Homo sapiens: one gene and its partner. The protein of the gene in region 1 interacts with the protein of each later gene in a pairwise test. Each region holds a gene or a part of one and is shown in the gene's direction. Other genes may lie near its edges.

Region 1 (11,638 bases):
GCACTTAGCACATAAAGTGAATGTTCAAAGCCTGATGGCTGCCCTCATCCAGCCAGGATCTGCACCTCCCTTCCAGGATCACTAAGTCCATTCCCAGAAGGGAAGTTGTGCATTGATTGCAGTGACCCGGTGATGCCTTCTTTCCAGCCCACGTGAGCTCTGGCAACGCATCACGTTCAATGCTCGCAGCATGTGGACGGCCCGTGACAACACTCTAGTTTCCAGTGTGAATGTAGATTTCCACTTCCCGCCCACATCCCACCTTTAAAATTGTTGGTTGTTATTTCAGTCAGTTTCTAGGCTGGGAGGCAGAGCCGCACTGAAGAAGTAGACACACCCTTCTCAGTCACCTTCTCATCACCAAGTAGGAACTGAGCATCTACTGTCTTTCTCCCTTGAGCAAATGGCTGGACAATATGCCTCAGGAATAGGGCTCATCAGAGGGAGGGTGCGGGAGGCCTGGGTTCTGAATCTTACCCATCTCTCCTTCGTTGGGGTATTGAGCAAGCCTTTAGTGTGGAAGGAAACAGGTCCTGAGGTGTGCAGGAAGTGGCCTGGGATTTTCCATATTTCTGTAACAGCACAACTATCACTGCAGCCAGGTCATTTATGATGGCCGCTGGGAGGACACTGAGAAGCAGCTGCTACCTGTGGAAAGAACTGTAGGATTTTAGTTGATGAGAACCACTGAGGGATATGGCTGCCAAAATAATAAAATAATCTTAGGTGACATCACTGGTGGTAGAGTGTGTAGAAACAAGGGAGGTGAAAGCCCACACTGCAGTGTGTTGGTCAGATTCCTTGGGGGACAGGGTCTAGGTCCGGCACATGCCAGGAAGCCTGGCCAAAGGGAGAGATGGTCACTGACTGCCTACTACGTGGCAGGATCATGCTAGGTGCTTTACATGTGTTCTCTCATTTCACATCAGGGAAGTCATGTGAGAAAATATCACCCCCATGTACAGAAGGGAAAACTGGGGGTTACTGCAGTGAAGTAGCCTGCACAGCATCATCCCGCCTGGAAGTGAAGGAGCTTGGAATTGGGGCCAGGCCTGGCTGACTCCCAAAGTGTGTGCCCTTGTTGGACACTGGGGCTCCCCTAGAAGCTGGCGTTCCACTCTTTCATACCATGTTGCATTCTTCTCTGGGGATCCCCAGATACAAAAGAGAATGGACTCAGTGTTCCTTCCTGTTCAGCAGAGCAACCCCCACCCCTCATTCCCTGCCACCCCTCTGGAATCAGCCCTGGATGAGAGTGAGTTGATAGGACTAGGAGCTGAGCTGTGCCATTCTGGGCTTCCCACCCCCCAGGCACAGAAAACAGTGATCAAAATGAAACCACTTGGCAGAACCCTCCTCACTCCCTAGGGACAGAGTGCAGTCACTCAGGCCCATGTTCCCTGCAAAGACGTTGAGGTCCGTGAAAGTAGGTCCATCCCATGAGGGGGCATCTGAGAAGAGAGGTGGGGTGGTGCCGTGGTGAGCAGCACAGACTCCATTGCGGGACTGCCCGGGCTGAGTCCCCACTCTGGCACTTTGCCGCTGTGTGACTGTGGGCAAGTTGCTTCACCTCTCCGTGCTTTTGTTTCTTTCCAGGTAGAATGGGGATTATTATTTGTGCCTGCTTCATAAAACTGACATAAAGTTAATTGTAAGACACCTAGAATGATGTCCAGCACATAACCAACTATATTAACTTTAACAAAAAATCTTGGCCGGGCACGGTGGCTCACACCTGTAATCCCAGCATTTTGGGAGGCCGAGGTGGGTGGATCACCTGAGGTCAGAAGTTCGAGATCAACCTGGCCAATATGGTGAAAGCTTGTCTGTACTAAAAATACAAAAAAGTAGCCGGGTGTGGTGGTGGGTGCCTGTAATCCCAGCTACTCAGGAGGCTGAGGCAGGAGAATCCTTGAACCCTGGAGGGGGATCTTGCAGTGAGCTGAGATGGCGCCATTGCACTCCAGCCTGGGCGACAGAGACAGACTCTGTCTCAAAAAAAAAAAAAAAAAATCTGTGTGCACTTCCTCCTTGAAGCCATGTAGCCCAGCTGTATATCCATCTTACCCTTTGGAATATGAGATGCTTAAGGCTGGGACTATGTCCAATTCTCTCTGTACCCCAGTGCCCAGAGGAGTCCAGCACTTACTTATTGTCTGCGGCAGGCATTGAATTTTCCAAATATTCCTGGTCCCAGGTGCTCTTTCAACCTCTTGCTGCCTCCTGTCTAGAGGTGAGGTCACTTTCCCCTCCCCTTGAGCCTGGGTGGTGCTCATGTGATTGCCTCAACAAATAGAATGTGGTGGAAATGGCACTGGATGGCTTCTGAGGCTAGGTTATAAAAGGGATGTAAGTTCCACCTGGCTCTCGCTGGGAATGCTCACCCGTGGACTCCAGCCACCATATTGTGGGGAAGCCCAAGCCATGTGGAAAAGCCACTTGCAGGTGTTCCAGTCAATGGCCTCAGCTAAGATCTTAGCCAAGAGCCAATATTAAGTGGTAGACCTGTGGTATTAAGAACATTCATGCTGTTATACAATTATCACTACCATCCATCCGCAAAACTCTTTTCATCTTGTAAAACCAGAACTCTATGCCTATTAAATTATAAGTCTTCATTCCCCCTCCTACCAGCCCCTAACCACCATTCTACTTTCTTTTGTTGATTCTGGCCACTCTAGGTATCTCAGACAAGTAAAATCATACAGTGCTTTTTCTTTTTCTTTTTTTTTTTTTTTTGAGACAGAGTCTCATTTTGTTGCCCAGGCTGGAGTGCAGTGGTGTGACCTCAGCTCACTGCAACCTCTGCCTCCCAGGTTCAAGCGATTCTCCTGCTTCAGCCTCCCGAGTAGCTGGGACTACAGGCACTCATCACCGCGCCTGGCTACTTTTTGTAATTTTAATAGAGACGGGATTTCACCATGTTGGCCAGGCTGGTCTTGAACTCCTGACCTCAGGTGATTTTCCCACCTTGGCCTCCCAAAGTGCTGGGATTACAGGTGTGAGCCACCGCACCCGGCCTACAGTGCTTGTTCTTTTATGGCTGTTTTATTTCACTTAATGTTCTCAAGGACCATCCATGTTGTGGCATATGCCAGAATTTCCTTCCTTTTTAGGGCTGAATTGTATGTCTGGCCCACATTTTGCTGACCACTCATCCGTTGATGGACACGTGTTGCTTTCACCTCTTGGCTTTTGTGAATGATGCTGCTACAAACGTGGGTGTTCACATGTCTCTTTGAGTTCCTGCTTTTGGTTATTTGGGGGATATACCCAGAAGTGGAATTGCTGGATCATATAGTAATTCTATGATGAGGTTTTTGAGGAACAGCCACGCTGTTTTCACAGGGTTCCAGTTTACTCACATTCTGGCCAACAGTTGTTATTTTCTGGATTTTTTTTTTAATCATAGGCATCCTAATGAGTGTGAGGTGGCAGACTCCCTCAGTCTATAGGGCAGAGAAGAGAGAGCCTCTGAGAAGGGTCTGTGACTTTGAACACTAGAGCTCTGAGCACGAACATTCCCGAGGGCTGCTTCTAGTCTCCTGAAGACCAGAGCTAACCACTGGGAATGGATTGTGGTGACTGAAGGGTGCCGAAGTCAGAACTCTCAGTGGCCTGGCACTGTGCCTCGAAGTGCCTCCCTACTGTGTTGATTAGTCTAAAAACATGTCAGCCTTTGGGTATGACCTTACTGGGGCCCCTCCAGACAGGGCATGGAGCAGAGGGCCCTCCTTTATGGGCTGGACTCACTAGTGAAGCTGCTTAACTGTGACTCACCTCCAAGGCTCAAGGTGATGCTAAGGTGCTAAACTGCTGGAACTCTTAGCTGTGCCTGTGTCTCCTTGGGCTCTGGGAGATTTTTTCTTTTAGCAGTATTTTATGGCGATATTGTCTAGGTAGAATAAAATGTACAGATCCTGGTTTTCTGTTTGAGTTTTGTTTTGTTTTGTTTTGTTTTGAGACAGGGTCTTGCTCTGTCACTCAACCTGCAATGCAGTGGCACGATCATAGCTCACTGTGGCCTCAGCCTCCCAGGCTCAAGCAATACTCCTGCCTCAGCCTCCCTGTAGCTGGGACTACAGGCATGCACCACCATGCCTCACTAATTTTTTTGATTTTTAGTACACAGAAGGTCTTGCTATGCTGCCCAGGCTTGTCTCAAACTCCCGGACTCAAGCAATCCTCCTGCCTCAGTCTCCCAAAGTGCTGAATTACAGGTGTCAGCTGCTGCACCCAGCCTCAGCCTGTTGTTAATGGATGTAAACACCTGTGGGACCACCACCCAGAACCAGATCCAGAACATTTCCAGCCTCTCGAAGACTCCTTCGTGCCCCTCCCAGTCAGTGACTCCCAAGGGTAACGCCACTCTAGCCTGTTGTTCAACTTGACTCGAATGGAATTCTCACAGCATGTGTCTGTTTGGATCTGGCTTCTTCCGCTCAGTTGCAAGGCTCATTGACGTTTCCTGTGGCCTAGCTCCTTTTTATTGCTGAGGGCCACTCTGTAGTGTGAAAACCACAATTCATTTCTCCCTTCTTCTGTTGGTGACTATTTGCATTGTTACCAGCCTGGGGCTATGACGAGTAAAGCTTTTAAAAACAGACAAATATGTTTTCCTTTCTCTTGGGTAATTTTTCAGAAGTAGAAAAGCCAGCAACTTTGAAGTAGATATTTGACTATATTACAACTCACCAAGCAGTTTTTCTTTCTCTTTATTTTTTTTATTTTTTGAGACAGAGTCTTGCTCTGTTACCTAGGCTGGAGTGCAGTGGCGTGATGAGGGTTCACTGCAGCCTCGGCCTCCTGGGCTCAAGTGAGCCTCCCACCTCAGCCTCCCACATAGCTGGGACCACAGGTGTGCACCACCACACCTGGCTAATTTGCCTTTTAAATTATATGTAGAGACAGGGTCTTCCTATCTTGACCAGGCTGGTCTCAACTTCTTGGACTCAAGTGATCCTCCCACTTCAGCCTCCCAAAGGGCTGGGATTACAGGCATGAGCCACCACGCCCTGCCCATTTTTCTAAGTTGGATTATTTTACACTCAAGTCTGCTATGAATGATAGTTCCAGTTGTTCCATATCCCAATCAATTGGTGATTGCTACAAATGACGTGACGTGATGAAAATATTCCTGGTATTCGAGAGGATTGCAAAGAATTTCCCTTCTTTTCTCTCCTTTCTGCTCCCCTTGTACTGTCTACTCCTTAACTTGGTCAAATTCTACTTGATCCAGAACATAATGGGATGGTGAGTGCAGACGACACACACGGCCTCAGTCTATGGGAACATCTCAAAGGAGTTCGTCTGCAAATTCTAGTGCATCTAGGCAGAACACAGGAAGGAAGAGAGGTGCAGACTTACGTATGGCCCTGGGGCACCTGCCATCCCCTCGAGCCTGTATGGTCCTTACCCGCCCATCCCCAGCTTGAGTTCTGGGCCTTCTCGCCAGCACATCGTTGGGACCTGGTCAACTTCAGGTAAGTTTATTTCATGGCTCCCTCTCCCCTCTGCAGCCTATCCTGTTATTCTCTGTTTCAGCCAATTATTTCCCCTAACTAGGTGCTGAAGCCAATTAAAGGCAGTTCATGCCATATGTTCCTTCCCACTCCCATGTCACTTGAAATGTTCTATTATGTCCAATACTTCTCTCCCCATCCTAAAGCTCACAAAATAAGGATGGAGAAGAGAAGAAAGAGAGATTCACTGAGGGGGAGGATCAGAAGCTCCTGGGCACCCCATACTCTAGAATAAAAATCTTCATTATAGTGTTTTTCATGCAAAATATTCCCTTCTACATAATTATGTTTTAACATGAAGAATAGAAATTTAAAGAGGAGAAATACTTCTTGAAGATTCTGAGAATCTTCATATAGCTCAGGCTGCCACGAATTAGCTGTGTGACCTGGGGCATGTCCCTCAGACTCTGAGCCTCAGCTTCTCTATATGTAAAATGAGTTGAAGCCACCCTTCCCCACAAGCACCCTGTGCACAGGCAATACCCAGCCCCATTATTTTCTGGAACCAGTGGCCAAGCATGCTTAGGACACACAGCCACATACTTCTGGGCAGTGTCATCTGGCAACTCACTGTCATGTCAGTGTGGTCAAGCATTGTAGACCTCTATGAACCAAATATGCTTCAGGCTTGGGTTGAGCACAGGAGAGGGAGGAGGGAAAGGTCACTGGGGCTGGGAGTGCCTACTTCCCTCTATGAGTGTCACCCCAGTTCACCCAACACCCTACCTTTCTCTCTCTGGACCCACTTCCTCTTGCTGCCGGCTCCTCCCCATTGAATAACAGCCAAGTTGCTTTGGTTTCTATTACTTTGTTAAGTCATTCCTTCTGCAAAGGACTGCCTGGCAGGTGTCAAAGGCAGTGGTGGCCACAGAGGCGGTGGAGAGATGGCCTTCAGCGGTTGCCAGGCTCCCTATCTGAGCCCAGTGAGTTCCGGGGCCGTGGGCACAGGGCTGCCTCAGCCAGGGGGACACAGTTCTGGGGCTCTGAGGAAGCAACTCCTGGGTGGCAGGAGATAGGGGTGGGGGCATCCCAAAGAGAACACAAGCAGGGCAGAAATGTCAGTGGGGGTCGTCCTGGCACAGCTGTGCCATGCTGAGCTCACTCATGCCTGGAGAGATGCTCCTCCCATGAGTCATGGGTTTGACAGTGTTGGCTGAGCTGTCCTGTCCTGTCCTGTGCGCTCAGGGGAAGAGGTGTAGAGTGGGATGGTTTGTGTAAAGAGGAAGCAAGCATGCTTCTGGGACAGTAAGGATGCTACCCGGCATGGTAGTTAAGGGTGCGTACTGTGGAGTTGGCCTCCCTGGGTCCAGCTATTTACTGGCTGGTGGTCTCTGGGCCTCAGTTTCCATATCTGTGAAGTGGGAATAATACTTGAGCCCCCCACTCCCAGGGTTGGGATATGGATTAAGGAAGTAGTGTATCTAGAGTGTTTGAACAGTGCCTGACACACTGTAGGTGCTTTGGGAGTGTTTCATGTTATTGGGAGTCTGGGTGCAGCAGGGAAGGCCTCCCGAGGAGGTGTCTGTGCTCTGAAGGGTGAGGCGGAGTTAACCAGGCATAGGCATGTCAGGGCATCTGTAGACGGACAGTCTCAGAGGTGACGGAGGCAGGGACTGTCCCTGCAGTGTGGGGTCAGAGGGCTGCAGGTGCCTTGCTGAAACTCTGTGAGGTTTATGAGTCCCCTTCATTCACGGAAAATCCAAGGTTCAGGGAGGCAAAGGCCAGTTGCCAAATGCCCCCAGATGGGAGTGGCAGCCCCAGGAGCCCAGGAGCCTTCAGGGGTGACTGTGTCCTGGGCTGGGTCCTGTCACAGGATCTCACCCTGCCTTGGCAAAGAGCTTCCCGAGGGGCTGGAGTGGGTGGGCTGATGGGCCCTTCCTGAGTGGGGAGGCAGAATGGGGAGGGTGGGCAGAGGCAGGGTGCTGAGGGCAGGGAAGCTGCCAGGGGCCACCTCAGCAGAGGCCAGGGTTGGGCTTGGGTGCCCTCTGGTGATACTGAGTCCAGAATGAGGCTGCCTATGTTCTGGTCTGCAGAGCTCAGCTCTGCTTTCTAGACTCCAGAGAGGAAGAATGGAGAAAGGAGGCCTGTTTCCTCCTGGCTGTCACCAATGACCCCTCAGCCACCCTATGGAAGCCCCCAAGGTAGAACCTGCATAGAGGGAGTGGGGGAAGCTGGAATGGGCTGCCGGTGTTGGGCGAGCCTTAGGGTCAGCGTGTGCCACCTTGAGCATGTCACCCCATTTCTGGTTTTCTGTCAGAGAGGGGATCCCAGAGCTTCTTCCAGGTTCTGACATATTATTATTCTGGTAACTGGTTTTTACTTTCTAATCTTTGGATTCAGAAGGAAAATCCTCCTATGCACATCAGAGAGTTTGAGAGAGTTAAAGCGGGGCCTTGGAGCTCAGACAAGAAAGACGATCAGTGCAGCCCCCACAGGTGTCCAGAGCTCCCCTCTACCCTACGGGGGCTCCCCTGGGTTGGGACACTTGAGCCTCACTCGGTGACCCATCTGGCAGTCGGAGTCACGCTTTCTCCACATGCCGACAGTGGGGGAAGGTCACGCGGTTCATGTCCTGCTGAGGAGGGCTGAGTGCCATGAGGGCCTGGCTTGGAAACCTCACTCCCACTTCTTGTCTGGCCTCATCTAGCCCAGCCTCTTTGGAGGGCTGGGGGGAAGCTGGAACCACCTGCTGTGTGGCCCAGGAAGCACTGCGAGAGCCAGGAATAAGGACGTTCCGAGCTTCCTCATGAGAGGAAGCCTGTGTGGTGGTTAGAAGCGTGGGTGCTGGGGTTCAAATCCCAGCTCTGTTGCCGACCAGCTGTGTAGCTTTGGGCAAGTGACTGAACTTTTCTGTGCCTCAGTTTCCTCATCTGTAAAAGTGGCCGGGGTTGCTGTGAGGATAAATGTTCCCGGTCACCCCCAGAGCCCTCATGGACACACATGGATCCAAATGCCACAGCAGCCTTAGCTGGCCAACTTAAAACAACACATTTGTGCTTACAGTGTTGGAGGTCAGAAGGCTAAAATCAAAGTGTCATGAAAGGTGGCCAGCAGGACCGTGGAGCCTCTGAGGCAACAGGGCACTTTGGCTAAGGGCCACGTACTGGCTCCAGCTGGCAGGCAGTCTCGGCCAGCCAGGCTGAGCTCCCTACTCCTGGGGCCAGGCCTTGGTGTCCTCTGGTGATGCTGAGTCCAGAATGAGGCTGCCCACATTCTGGTCCGCAGGGCTCAGCTCTGCTTTGACTTCCAGGTAGGAAGAAGAGGGAAAGTCCCCGGTCTCTGGGCACAACCAGGAACAGAGAGTAAGTTCTGACTCAGCAGAGGGATTGATTTGTTCCATGCAAAGAGCTGCACTGTCAAGGCCGACATGGGCCAGAGGCTCAGCACATGGCATCGCACCCCGTCCTCTCAGAACGCTGCCAGCCAGGGGCTCAGCACATGGCATTCCACCCAGTCCTCTCCAGAATGCTGCCAGCCAGGGACTCAGCACACAGCATTGCTTCCAGTCCTCTCCAGAACACTGTCGGGTGGTGTTACTGCCCTGCCATTCAGAGGAGGGAAGTGGGGCACAGGCAGGTCAAGTGACTTGGCCAGTGTCAGAATTGCTAGTGTACAGAGCTGGGAGGCGAGCCCAGGCCCATGGGACCACAAATCCAACACAAAAATCCATCCTCCTGCACCCTACGGAGCAAAAGTAGGTCCAGTTGTTTTCCTGGGTTTCCTGGACACACGGATCTAAATTCCACAGCAGCCTTGGCTGGCCAATCTTAAAACAACAAATTTGCTTTCTTAATGATTCTGGAGGGCAGATGTTAAAATCATCGTGTGAGCAAGGTTGTCTCCTTCCGGAGGCTCCAGGGGAGAATCTGTTTCTTTTGCTTTTCCAGCTTCTAGAGGCTGCCTGCCTGCCTTGGCTTATGACCCCTCCTGCCATCTTTAAAACCAGCAGCTTTGTCTGGGTGCAGTGGCTCATGCCTGTAATCCCAGCACTTTGGGAAGCTGAGGCAGGAGGATCTCTTTAGCCCAGGAGTTGGAGACCAGCCTGGGCAACAAACTGAGACTGTGTCTCTACAAAGAATAGACAAAAATTAGCCAGGCATGGTGGTGCATGCCTGTAGTCCCAGCTACCTGGGAGGCTGAGGTGGGAGGATCGCGTGAGCCTGGGGAAGTGGAGGCTGCAGTGAGTTGAGATCATGCCACTGCACTCCAGCCTGGGTGACAGAATGAGATCCTGTCTCAAAAAAAAAAAAAAAAAACACAACAAACAAACAAACAAAACCCCCAAAACCAGCTTCTTGCTTCTGTTGTCACATCTCTTACCTCTGACTTTGATCCTCCTGCTCCCTTTTATGGGACCTTTGTGATTACATTGGGACCACCTGTATAATCCAAGACAATCTCCCCATGCCAAAATTATGCATTTAATCACATCTGCAAAGTCCCTTCTACAACATATTCACAGTTTCCGGGGATTCGAATGTGGATGTTTCTGGGGGGTCGCCCACTGATAACCAGTATTATAAGTTTCTTGTAAATCCTTCCAGAGATATTTTATCTATAAATAAATAAATGCAAGTCCATAGCCTTCCCCTACCCACTTTTTATGCAAATGGCATTATTCCATATCGGTGCTCAGAGTTTTCCTCTTTTTCTTTTTTCTTTTCCGTCTTCTTTTTCTTTTCTTTTGAAAGCTACACAGAACTTATTCTATTATATGGAAATACCCTAATTTATTTCACCTTTTCCCTGTTGGAAGACTTTTAGGCTCCTTCCAATGCTTTGCTTTATAATCCTTTGTGTTATAATGCTGCAATGAATAACCTTGTTTGTTGGATGATATTCAATTTAAAATCTCATTTTTCAGGACAGGCATAGTGGTTCATGTCTGAAATCCCGGCCCTTTGGGAGGCCAAGACAGAAGGATCACTTGAGCCCAGGTGTTCAAGACCAGCCCTGGCAACATATCGAGACCTGGTCTTTTCAAAAAAATTTGAAAATTAGTGGGGCATGGCTTGGTGGCCTGCACTTATTTGGTCTCAGCTGCTCGGGAGGCTGAGGTGGGAGGATTACTTGAGCACAGGAGGTGGAGGCTGCAGTGATCCATGATCACACTCCTCACTACACTCCAGCCTGGGCAACAGAGTGAGAACCCATCTCAAAATAAAATAAAATAAAATAAATAATAAAATAATCTTGTTTTTCAGAAATTGGGGGTGCCATTTAAGACATTTTGAAACCTCACAGAACTTTTTTGGGGAACTTGTTGCCTTGGAGATTAGCCTGCCCTGTCCTGCCCCCATGACCTGTACTTGGTCTTTCTCCCTCCTGGCTTCCTTAGTTAAGCCTTGTGTGGACTTGCGAGCCCATGTCCATCACTCTCTGCCTTCAATTCTAGGTGCTGTGGTGTGAATACGCTTGAGTGGAGGCCGCATGCTTCCCAGGAGGGTGTGTATTTTCAGCGTTGTCTCTCATGATAGAATGAAAGGCTCTGGAGGGAATCACAGGCTGCCACAAACAGGCAAGGGGAAAAATCTTCCACAGACGCGTTTCAGGGACAACAGGCTTCCCAATCCTAGCCCATGCTGGCCCATAACTGGATCAGGCTGACTCTCCTTCCCCCACACCGCTGGTGTAGACAGGGACAAGAAAGAGAAGTCAGAGACACAGAGAAGCTGTGATTTGCTTGAGGTCACCAAAGTATTTAATGGCAGAGTTCAGACCTGACCTGAGGGGCAAGAAAAGACAACCCCCTCAAATCCATGGGGAGCAGAGACTATCTGGATCAGATCTCAGATTGCCTGGGGCTTTCACGGTGCCAGGTGTGTACACTGAGCTAGGATGGGTTTCCCAGGGTGCTGTGTGGTCACATAACTCAACAATACAGACCAGAAAGCAGTGACCAGTAGGCTGAATTTGGCTAGTGGGTGTTTTCTGTTTGGCCTGCACAGTGTTTATTTTAACTTGTTATTATAGGAAATTCAAACATGCAGAGAGAATTGTACCATCAACAACACACACCCATCACTCTGCTCCAACAATGATCAACTCAGGCCTATCTTGCTTCATCCTATACCCTCCCTCGCTTGCTTCTCTTCCCACCTTCAGATATGCGGAAG
Region 2 (11,959 bases), on another chromosome or scaffold:
TGTCTCAATAAACGTAATATAAAAGAAAGAAAAGGGGCTGGGCGCTGTGGCTCATGCCTGTAATCCTAGCACTTTGGGAGGCCAAGGCGGGCAGACCATGAGGTCAGGAGATCGAGACCATCCTGGCTAACACGGTGAAACCCCGTCTCTACCAAAAATACAACAAATTAGCCGGGCATGGTGGCAGGCACCTGTAGTCCCAGCTACTCAGGAGGCTGAGGCAGGAGAATGGCGTGAATCTGGGAGCGGAGGTTGCAGTGAGCCGAGATCGCGCCACTGCACTCCAGCCTGGGAGACACAGCGAGACTGCCTCTCAAAAAAAAAAAAAGAAAGAAAGAAAAGAAATGGACAGTGTTCTTGGTGCGCTGGGAAAGGTGGAACAGTGCAGTTACAGAGTGGGAAACAGAGGGCATTCAGACCAAGCCCAAGAAATAAGGAGGTCAGGCAGTCGACATAGGCACCCCAAAAGTCACAGATACACATAGCCAAGGGGGTCACAGGCTTAAAACCCTAGATGACACTCTCAGGAAAGGAAAACCAGTGTCTGCTGAGCGACTGCTATGTTCCAAGTGTTGCCCAGTTTCACCAGCTCTAATGATACTAGGATACATGCCTCGACCAAAAGAACCATCCTTTCATGTACTACTAAAAGCATGCTACCATTAAACCATGATACTTTATTATTATTATTTAGGATTTCTGTTTTGTATGTATGAAGAAGGCTGGGCCCTATTTAGACATTCTTATATAAACATTATATATAGGTGAAATCAATTGTTAAATCATTCCTAACATTTTCCACACTCAGGCTAACTCTTCTGAATCACATTTGGACTTGGAGTCATCAATATCCATGTTTTTCCATGCGCTGTCATCTTCTTTGCCATTAAGATGTCAGGTGGTAGAGAATTTCATAAGAGTAGCATATGAGTTTCCTATACACTGCAGTCACAAATTATCACAACTTTTGTGGCTTAAAACAAAGCAAACCTTGTCTTCTACTTCTCCGGGTCAGAGGTCTGCCACAGGCCTCACTGGGCTGTCAAGGGGTCACAGGATTGCTTTGCTTTCTGGAGTCCACTTCCTTGCTGTTGCCAGTTTCTCCAGCAGCCTGTGTTCCCTGGCTCATGGCCTCTACCGCTGCTACAAAGCCAGCAACGTTGCATCTCTCTGACCCACCATTCTTCCACAGTCATGGCACCCTCTGAGCACAGCTGGAAAGGTTCTCTGATTTTAAGGATGCACTTGATTAGCTTGGGCTAGCATCTGGATTAACCAAAATAACCTCCCCATCTCAAAGATCTTCCTTGAATCACATCTTCACAGTTCTTTTTGCCATGTAAGGCAACTGATTTCTTGGTTCTGGGGATTAGGGCAAAGACATCCTTGGGGGACACTGTCCTCCTCACTACAAGCAGTTTCCTATGGTCTCCAGAACACCCCCAGCCCCTGACACCTTCCTGAAAATGTTTATGCTGGGGCTCTCTTGACACTGTCAGAAGCTGTCAACAGGAAGGTGTTAGACACCTTCTCCAATGATCCTTAGTCATTTGGTAACTAAAATGTCAGGAGAGTGGTTTCCCATCATGACACCAGGAATTACAACAATATGCCTACCCTCACCATGCCATGGCTGTGGCATGGAGAACATAAGACGCTACAGTGGCGTCTGCATCCTGGCTTTGGAGTGGTTAAACTAGGAACAAACAGAACTGAGAGACTGTAGAATATGATTTCATCCTCAGGAAGCCCACTACAGTGAGTCAACTGAGACTTACTGACACACAACTTCAGGAGGGGCCATTCATGTTGAGTCTATGAGAATATGCCCTCGGAGGTGGCCGGTAGACATGGAAATAAGGAAACCAGAGCTCAGGGGGCAGAAAATTGCCTGGAACATGCCAACGGTCTAAGCAGAATCAGAAGTTGATCCCAGGTCTTGAGGCTCAGAGCCTCTGAGCCTTCCATGGAGTATCTCCACGCTCATTAATACAGGAGGGCTGATGGTAAACAGACATTTGGAAACCTCTATCATTTTAGCCACCCACCTCTCTAGGTAGAACCTCGCCTAGCTGGGACCTTGCTGATGTAATATCATAGTAATGGGCCTTATTTATCCAACTGATATGCTCCTGAAAGCATGCACGGCTTTCTGTAAATGGGAATCCATTTTAAATACATGAGGAAAAATTGTTCTTTAAAGGAAGTCCGAGGTGAATCCCTACTTCCCTCTGGTCCCAAAGGTACCTAATTAGTCATTTGAAGAAGGCGACATGGGTTAGGTAAAAGAATATTTAGGCTTCTGAAGCTGACTGGGTTCAAATCCGGGATCGTCATTTCCTCACTGTGATGTCAGACGAGTCATCAACTCTCTCCCTCCGCGTCGTCCTCTGTGATGCAGGTGCATGTGCCTACCTGGGAGTGTTGGAGGATAAGAGTCCCAGGACATGGTGGGAGCTCAGCGTTCCTGTCCCTCAATTTCTTTTTATAAGGAAAATTATCATCCCTACCATCCCTGCCTCCCACTGCTTGAGGAGCAAAATGAGGCAGGATTTGTGATATTGCTCTGAAAATTGAACAGCACCAGCACCAGGCAAACAGGAGAGATTATGATGCAGATGGCTGTGTGTTGAGTGCTCCCATCACATGAGAGTCCTATGATGCTTCTTCCCTGTGCTGCGAGGGCTTCATCTCCTAAGCACTAAATGCTAAATTCCCCCTCCCACGCCCATCGCCACTGTCCTCACGGATCCTCGCAGCAGCTTCCCAATCGGTCTCCCTGTCTCCAGCCTCACCACCCCCAACTCTCCTCCACCTAGAAGCTAGAGTGGTGTTCCCAAAAAGGAAACATATTTACAGTCAGTCTGTCTCCTGCCAAATTGTAATTTCTGATGGAAGGGGCTTTCTGGGTGTTATTCGCCCATGTGAGCCCGCCTCTAGCGTGGAGCTTGGCACAGGGAGGGTTCAGCATATGTCTGTTAAGTGCCCGGTTATGGATGCAGCCTGTAGGGTTCCACTGGCCTATTGCACTTTCTGTGTCCTGCCAGGATGCGGGTGGCATTCTGGAGGCCTCTCCAGCTGGGGCAGTCCATGAGCTCCAGAAAGTTCACATCAAAGGGGTGGCCCTGGCTCCATGAGGAAGAGTACAGGCTCTGAAATCAGACCCAGGGTTCTGAATACCATTCCCACCTCTCACCAATCAACTATCAATTCTGTGCCTCAGTTTCTCGTCTGTAAAATGAGAATGATAATAATGCCTGCTAATAGGGTCATTTTTGTATTAAATAACTGAGAATATTGCCTGAAATCCTTGCCAACCCACATTATTTTGAAACAAGTCTCATTTCATCCATAAATATGGCAGCATGTGTCTCCACTAGATAAGAGCTCTCACACACACAATACCACTATCACACCTAAAGTATTAACAATAATTCCATAATATCATCCAACCAGTGTTCAAATTTCTCTAATTGTCTCATAAACAATTTTGTCATTTTGTTCAAATCAGGACTGAATAAGGTCCATCTATTGCAAGAGACTGATAGGGGTACTGGGATTCTTTTGATCTATAGCAGGGGTTGGCAGACTTTCACTGAAAAGGGTTAGACAGCAAGTATTTTGGTCTTTGTGGGCCCTTCTGTCTTTGTTGCTATGACTTAAACGAATGGCTATGGCTGTGTTTCAATAAAACTTTATTTATAAAAACAGGCAGTTGGCCAGATTTGGTCCCAAGAAGGCAGATTGCTAACCTGTGATGTACAGGCTTGTTCAGATTCAGGGTTTTTTTGTTTTGTTTTGTTTGGCGATAACATGTCATAGATGGGTAGCATTGCGGATTTCCATCCGAAGGCTTAGAATGTCAGGGTGTTTCTCTTTCCCTCTCCCTCTAATATTATCAGCCATGTACATTCGGTGTCCAGATTCATTAACTCATTAAGGGAAGTAAAATGGCAACATTCTAATTCTATCGTCCCTTCATTTATTAGCTGCAATACTTTTACAAAGAGAAACTCGCCTTTATCTACTATTTGCTTATACTGACGTATAGTTTGTACAGGAAAGTTAAGATAATACATGCTTGATCCCTTTCCTTTCTTTACCAGCTTTTAAAAATAATGAGTTGGGCTTCTTAGCATTCTTCAAAGATAATCAATGTACTTTTAAAAAGAACATTATGAGCAAATAGATTTCAACATAATTGAAGTGTTTTGAGGCATTGCAGTTACTGCCTTTAATGATGTTTAAATTGTCTCCGTTTTGCCCCAGCTTATGACAAGACCTCAGAAGTCTTTGATAACATCCTTGCTTTCTGGTGTGATGAGATATTCTAGGGTTATCTTATTCAGTTTATAAAATCAGCCTTCTCCAAAAAGCCCTGGTTCTCTCTGGAGGGAAGTGATATTTAGTAACCCTAATATGATACTAAGGATACTTATTGTTTCCAGAACTTTTCAGTAGATATATCAAAGGATCATTTTTTTAAAGGCCTCAGAAATACAGAATTCAGAATACTGAAATTTCTGAATCAGTTCAGGACCACAGCTGGCGCCTCTATGGGTAAGGTAAGTATGTGGGAGGTAAGATCCCCCATGATCAAAGCTGTTTGCGTCCCTCGGCCCAGCCCGATCAAACTTCTGGATGCCATCAAAGAGATCTGCCTAACCTAAAGATCATTGTTCTTTAAAAGAAAAACAAGTTCATTAATCATGTGAGGAGGCTTGGGGCCAGGATATAAAGTTAATGACAAGGGACTCCCTTCTATTAAAAGGACTATGTGCAAACAGGCATGCCTGGAGGAAGCCAAGGACCACGATAAAGGAAAACAAACACCTTATGATTCATCTAACATAGGCCCGGTTACAATCGCAGGTGTAAAAGGAACTGGGAGCTGGCAGTGAGAGACAACAAACATCAGTGGAACATGGGATGGTGACTCTTTCTGGCTGAGCGCCACACGTTCCTACCAGGAATCTTCTATTAGTCATTTGGGCTGGAGAGTGAGATCCTTCCTCGCTCTCCACCGTCCAGGGTCATGTTTAATGGTGATGTTTGTTCTTTCCAAGGAGAGAAGGCCCATCTAATTGCAGGGCTTTTGTTTTCCTGAATGGACTCAGGAAGGCCATGGCTGAAAACGAGGGTGCTGAGAGGCTGTAAGGAGAAGGGAAGGAGTTGGAGGCTCTGGTGGAGTGAGGAAGAGCAGGGCAGTATCCCATGTCCTCTGATGTTAGGGGTGAGGTCAGGAGGGTGGGTCTCACCTTCTCCTTTCTCTGCCCTGCATCGGTCACCATGGTTTAAAAATCAATGCTATTCCATGAGAGGGCTGCCACTTATCATTTCAGTTCCAACACCTGGAAAGTAAAATTATTGTCTCCCAAATCCACCCAGCACCATAGGCTTGAATAGGGATCATATGCTCTAAGACCATTCATGAAAACAGAGACAACCAAGGAGACAGTCACCCAATGCTGTCCCTTCAGCTTGCATTATTTTCTGACAAGACAGCTCTGCCATCCATGGAAGCCTGTGTGCTCCTCCATCCCTGGATCTTTATGCATCCTTTTCCCCACAAACCCAAACCATCCCTCTTAAAATGAAAAGCTTAGGAATACTCACCCTAGACTGAGTCACGCGTTTCTTGTACAAACTTTAATTAGACTTGATTTTTTAAAAATTTCCCTTGTGGCTTTTAATTATTAGACAGAGCAAATGTCTCTAGTATTAAACTTATATGTCACATAGCCTCTTTATCAATGGCCCTAATACATTTCATGTGCTTTTCAGAAAGATTATATTCTTCCCAGAGCTGTCTGAATGTCTTTTTGAACCCCTCAAGACTGGACACCAAGGAGTATAAATAATCATTTTAAAAAAAATCACATTCCCTCCACAACCTTGAATCTGAAACGTGAATATATGAATAGAAGGGCTCTGGAATAACTATGCAGATTTATGGAGAATATCAACTTAAGTTATATCACGGGATCCAGCTATGCCTTTCTTCATGGAGTTGGGGATTTGTTAAAGTTGAGATATAGTTTGGGGGAAGTGTGATTTATGGTTAAAGTCATCTGAAAATCAATACATTTGAAGATCTCTGACATAAAGGTCCCTTGCAGAGCTAGACGTGATTCTAAAATTGGGAACACAGGAATAAAAATCAAATCTTGAGTAGAAGTAGCTGAAAATTGCAGTGATTCGGGGAAGCTTGGCTTCTAACTCCCCACTGTTTGAAGATGGGCTTGTTTGTTTTTTAAAACAGCCAACATAATTCAGCTGGAGGAGGTACAAAGAATTTTCTATTCCTTGTTTCTGTAGAAATCGATGGACTTTAGCTTGTCTAATTGTCCCCCCTGCCTTTAGTATCTAAAATAAAATAACCCTCGTTGCTTGCATTACTCAACGCATTTCTGCGTCTTGGCGTCTATGGCTAAACGAGTATTAATTAGACAGTCCGCAGAGAGCTGGCTGGGGATAGAAGGGGAGGTGGGGGAGAAGGGCAGGGATCACAGCAGGGTGGACTCGTGGCCCTGATTTGGGATCCTGACAGCAACTTACTAGGTGGCCTGAGGGCTGGGTGCCAGGGGAGGCAGCGGGTTCCAGTAGCATCTGACCTGCATTAGGGACAGGGGCGCGGCGGAGGGGGCGAAGGGGGCGGGGGTGGGGGGAAGGTGGCTGGGGTGAAGCCCAGCTTCGCAGCTAGCTGTGGGCAACAGAGGGAGTAAGGGGGGGCAATGAGGCTGGGGCCAGGCGCCAGCAGCAGCCACGCCCCCCACCTCCCCCGATTTTTAGGGAAAATTCTCCAAAGCTCTCGCATCCTCCTCTGCCTCCTTCCACCCTCCACCCTCCCAGCCTCCACTGAGACCTCTTTAAAACCACCCAGGGGCCGCCGGGGGATGAGGCCGGGGAACGGGCTGGACTGAGGGCGGGGGCTCGGGGGCAGCGGACGGGAAACGCCTCGAAAGCAGCCAGACCCGGCGACTGAAATGAGGCGGAGGAGCTTGGCGAGGGGAGGCGCAGGCTCGGAAAGGCGCGCGAGGCTCCAGGCTCCTTCCCGATCCACCGCTCTCCTCGCTGACCTCCGAGTCACCCCCGGAAGCTCCCGCCACTGCCGGGCGAATAGACCCCCGCGGACCCCCAAGCGCGCGGGGCCGGGGCCCTAGTTCAGGCCCTCGCTGCCCCTTTAAGGGTTCTCGAAACTTTCCCCCCGGTATCAGATGAGCCTCGTCACATCCGTTGGCCGTGGCCGCTGGGGCGCTTTCCGAGGAAATTCGGGACTCGAGTTTCCCGGGGAAGAGGCGCGGCCTGAGCCCGGCGAGGGTGGGGAGGGCAGGCGCAGGTGGACCCCGGCGCCCCCCGAGCCCCGCTGTGACCTTGGCCGCGGGGGAGGGGCTGGGCCGCTGCGGGGCAGTCGCGGCCGCCAGAGGGGGCAGCGGAGAAGAACTTGCCCAACTTGGCGGCGCGGGCTGGGGCGGCTCTGCGCCTCCGCGCCCGCCTCCCCGGCCTCCGCCTTCTCCCCTCCCGCGAGCCTCCTCCCCTCCCGCGAGCCTCCTCCCCTGGGCCCTCCTCCCGTCCTCCCCGCCGCCGCCGGTCCCGGTGCGCGCCCATCCCTGCCCGCAGCCCCGCGCGCCGGCCGAGTCGCTGAGCCGCGGCTGCCGGACGGGACGGGACCGGCTAGGCTGGGCGCGCCCCCCGGGCCCCGCCGTGGGCATGGGCGCACTGGCCCGGGCGCTGCTGCTGCCTCTGCTGGCCCAGTGGCTCCTGCGCGCCGCCCCGGAGCTGGCCCCCGCGCCCTTCACGCTGCCCCTCCGGGTGGCCGCGGCCACGAACCGCGTAGTTGCGCCCACCCCGGGACCCGGGACCCCTGCCGAGCGCCACGCCGACGGCTTGGCGCTCGCCCTGGAGCCTGCCCTGGCGTCCCCCGCGGGCGCCGCCAACTTCTTGGCCATGGTAGACAACCTGCAGGGGGACTCTGGCCGCGGCTACTACCTGGAGATGCTGATCGGGACCCCCCCGCAGAAGGTAGGGACCCCCGGCTGCTGCCGCGGGCTTTTCGGGCTCGTTGGAGGGAGGGGGCTGTCCAGAGACGCCTCCACGCGGCTTAGCGTCGCCCCCAAAGCAGCAGCTGTCCCCGCACAGAAGAGCGGGGAACGCAGAGGGGCTCGGGTGGGCCGGGGAGCGGGGGCGCTCGCTCTTGAGTCGCGGAGGACGGCAGCCCCCGCCCGGGGCGCACTGAGGGGTGTGCGCGAGTGTTTCAGAACTTGTGAGCTCCCCCTCCGCGGGGCTGGGCGGGAGAGGAGACCTGGAACTTGCCGCCTCCAATAACGTGATTTCCTTCTTGCGGGCGACACCTACTTCCAGCGGGAGACGGAGCGGTGGGCCTTGGGCGACGGGCTATTATGGGGAAAATCACCTCGTGTTCATACCCTCCCTCCCCCCCGCCCCCCCCCCACCCCACCACCATGCTGTCTCATTGCTAAAGAGGCTCGTGGCCGGCTTCCAAAGGCGCAGTACCCTTTAAAAAGGATTTATGCATGAGCTCAGCTAAAAGCAACCCGGTTAAGAAGTGGCTCGCTTGCTGCTCTGAGGAAGGAGCAGCGTCTCCCCTGCGCCCGCTTTCCTTTCTCGGAGTTGGTTTGTCAGCTGTGTCCTCGCTCATCCGGCGGCCCTGCCCCTCTGCACGGAGCGATGCATCTACACGCGGGTGTGCAGAGTGTGAAAAGCATTCCAGCTACCGGGAAAAAAACAGGGGCTGAGTGAGGTGTCCGGGGACCAAGTGGTATCCCGATTACAACACAAAAATAAAATCAAACAGCTTTCCTTTTCTCTTACTCTGATGTTCATTTACTAACACTTTTTGTAGCAAGAAACAAATGTTCCCAAGCACAGTGATCTGAAAAAAAAAAAAAAAAAATCCCAATTGATCTGCCCCCTCCTACTTTCAAACTGTCTAATCCAAGTGGGATTTGAAGTCCTTTGCTCAATTGAATGCACTATTTGAAGATAGTTTATTTTTATTTTTAACATTGTCATTTGGGTTTTGATTCAGCTATGATTCCCCCATAAATAGAACATACTCATGACTTTTGTATAATTCTCATTAAATTATTCAAGACTTTAAGAGGAAAGACATGCCATGCTAATTCTTTTAAAAAAGGAAACTGCCGAATAACTTCTGTAGTTGTTTAATTAGTTTAGGGGGAAAAAAAAACCTTCAAAAGCGTATATTCAAACTTTGATTCTAGTTGCCTTTCGTCTAAGTCATGGGAAGCCACGTGAGTGATCTTTGCCATCTCCAGGAGTGGATGGTTAGAGGGAGGGAATAGGAATCCCCATCAGCTGAGGGAGCTTAACTTGGCTGTAAGATGTGGTCTTGGTGCAGCCAACACGTGGGAACATGTGCCTGGTGCTGAGAACCTTGGAAATATGACAAGATATTGAGGAAGAACCTCTTCTGTGACCTGCAGAGAATCTTTTGGAACAGGCCTTGAATGAATCCCCATTGGACATGTGTGCTTTGATGCGAGGGAATTCTCTCTACTAAAAGTAAATGTGGGTGGTCTGAGGGCTATGATAAAAGAAGCCCTGAAACCCTCCCTCCAGAGCAAAGGGGAAAGGGAGAAGCCTGAAGAAGGACTAAAAAATACTTAACTTTGGCAATCAAAAAAAAAAAGCTTTTATAAATAATAACTTGCCTGTTAATTAATTCAATGACCTTTATTTTAAAATGATGAGGTTTAATTAATTTAATTAACAGAAATGTATTGAGTACCTAGGCTCCTGTCTTTACCGTAGCCAAGGCAGTAGTTGGTTCAAGATTACTTCTCAACCATTAGCATGTTTCCAGGGAGCGCTGCTTCTACAGAGACAGATTTAATTTTTACATGTGATGGGGAATGAAATATCCTGTACCTCCCTCCTGGCTTGATTTAGCGATAAGCTGCTTTATAACCAAATCTTTCCAAATGCCTACTGTAAAGTCAGGCTTTCCTGACTACTGCATTAGGATTCACTACCTGCCTGTGTTGCCCTGAAATGTCTCTGACCACCAGCAGGGTGTCAGCAGCCGGCTAGAGGGGGCAGCAGTGAGGTGACTTCTGAACCTGGAGTGAGCTTTCCTGCTCTATTAATGGCCAGGAGTCATGCATTTATTCTCTGCTGATTCTCTGAAGCCTAAAATAAAAATTGCTTAGGTGGAGAGAAAAATGGAATTGTAAATTCAAGCAATAAATAACCAAGAATTTTTCAAGAATTAAGTAATAGTCATAGACAATGTCTGAAAGCTCAGTACGTGACAAGCACTGCGCTCTGTGCTTTAGGTGTGCTTTCCCAGGAATCCCCACCCACCACCCACCACCCCTCGGGGGTCTTATACGCATTTGGGGGTGGGAAAACTGAAGCTCGGAGAGACTGAATGACTTTCCAGGGCAACAGGGCAAGAAAGAGGGAGGGCCAAAAATGGAAGCCAGGGAGCTGAACTTCAGAAGCCAAGTTCTGAACCACCAGACAGATAACGACTTCCTTCCCTTCATGCCTCCTGATCTCTTTGGTTTTGGCCTCAAACTACCCTTTCTAGCCAGAGAACCCTGAACGTACACCCCAAGGTGTTAGGGACTTATTGTATGACTGCAACTGGACCCTCCGGAACTCCGTGCTGTTCCCCCATCTCCTCTTTCCTTCAGCACTGCTGAATGAGCAACAGAATGAAGGGCTGGATCCAGGTGTGCACGGGAGAGGCCTTGAGAGGAGAGGTTCAACAGGAACCAGAGCCCTCCAGCTCCCCTTCTTTTATGGGAAAGTCAACTGTTGGAAGTGTGCTTGTTCCCCGAAGGCTTTAATCAGGAACTAGAGGTCCATTGTTTAAAGCCCAGTGACTCTGTGAGGAGTCACAGGCATGTGCCCGGAAGCCCGCCTGAGAGCTGCAAGGCGTGTGTGCTGGCAGGCAGGGCCACGTTGGCATGGAGATGACTGCCAGGTTTGCGGCTGATCCCATTATGTGGGTTCTTTCGAACTGTAGAACTTTTGAACAGTTCTTTCAACCAGCACCTGCTTGAACCGTGCAATTTGGTCTTATTAATAATAACACTCTTCTAAAGTAATTATAATTACAGCAATTTCTATTATGAAAAAAGAGACTTTCATGTTAACACAATAACTCCAGCTGAAGACAGGAGAAGGTGTGCAGCCATATACCTTGTAGTAGCTTCAAAAAAAGCCTTTGGGATTCTTTTTCTGAAAGATTTTCTGTCATCTCCACTAACATAGGTAAAGCAGACAGCAAAACTATTCTCATACCTGAACACTTGAATGTAAAGGGCCACCTAATTATTTTGGCGAATCCTATTTTAATCATGGTGCATTCACTTGATTATCAGCCTCTTAGTACACAATTATTTGGAAGACTTGTATTGAAAATATGGATCCAGCATATGCAATAAGAGTTTGTGTTCTTCAGAAGAAGCCATCCAGGCTCCCCAAATGAAGCTGACTGTAGGTGAGGCTGAAAACAAGAAGGCAATCCCAGCAAGAAGAAATCTGATGGAGCCACTTGAAATGGTAAACTATTAAAGACAATGAGAAAAAACAATTACTGAGGTTGAAAGAACAAGAAAGTCAAAGCCAGTTTGCCACCAGCTCCTTCGAGTGAGAAGTGGCAGCTTCTGGGCTTTAGAGAAAGAATTCATCAAAGACTGTATTACAGAGGACTGGGAAAGGTGAGCCAAGAAATCAGCTTGAAACAACAAGGAGGGACAGGAGTCTGAGAAATAGTTTATAAGATCAAGAGCTGACCTTGATTTCTTGCTGATGGAGTGTTGGACACTCAAAGGGCACGTGAAGCCCTGTGCGTGGCTCACCTCATTGTATCCTTGCAACGTCCTGGAAAATGTGCACAACAATGTGACTTAATTTTCAGACAGGGTAACCGAGGCTTGGAGAGGCAGAGTAGTTTGTCCAGGGC

Evidence for each region.
Region 2: the proteins of LGALS9C (region 1) and BACE2 interact in binary tests that used the Homo sapiens proteins (3 or more experiments, as listed by UniProt).

Annotation. Positions count from the first base shown.
Region 1 is NC_000017.11:18,470,449-18,482,086, forward strand, and holds the start of LGALS9C (galectin-9C), read left to right. Parts: upstream 1-6,340; 5' UTR 6,341-6,406; coding exon 6,407-6,445; intron 6,446-11,638. UniProt on the Homo sapiens protein: Binds galactosides.
Region 2 is NC_000021.9:41,160,554-41,172,512, forward strand, and holds the start of BACE2 (beta-secretase 2 isoform A preproprotein), read left to right. Parts: upstream 1-7,606; 5' UTR 7,607-7,710; coding exon 7,711-8,022; intron 8,023-11,959. UniProt on the Homo sapiens protein: Responsible for the proteolytic processing of the amyloid precursor protein (APP).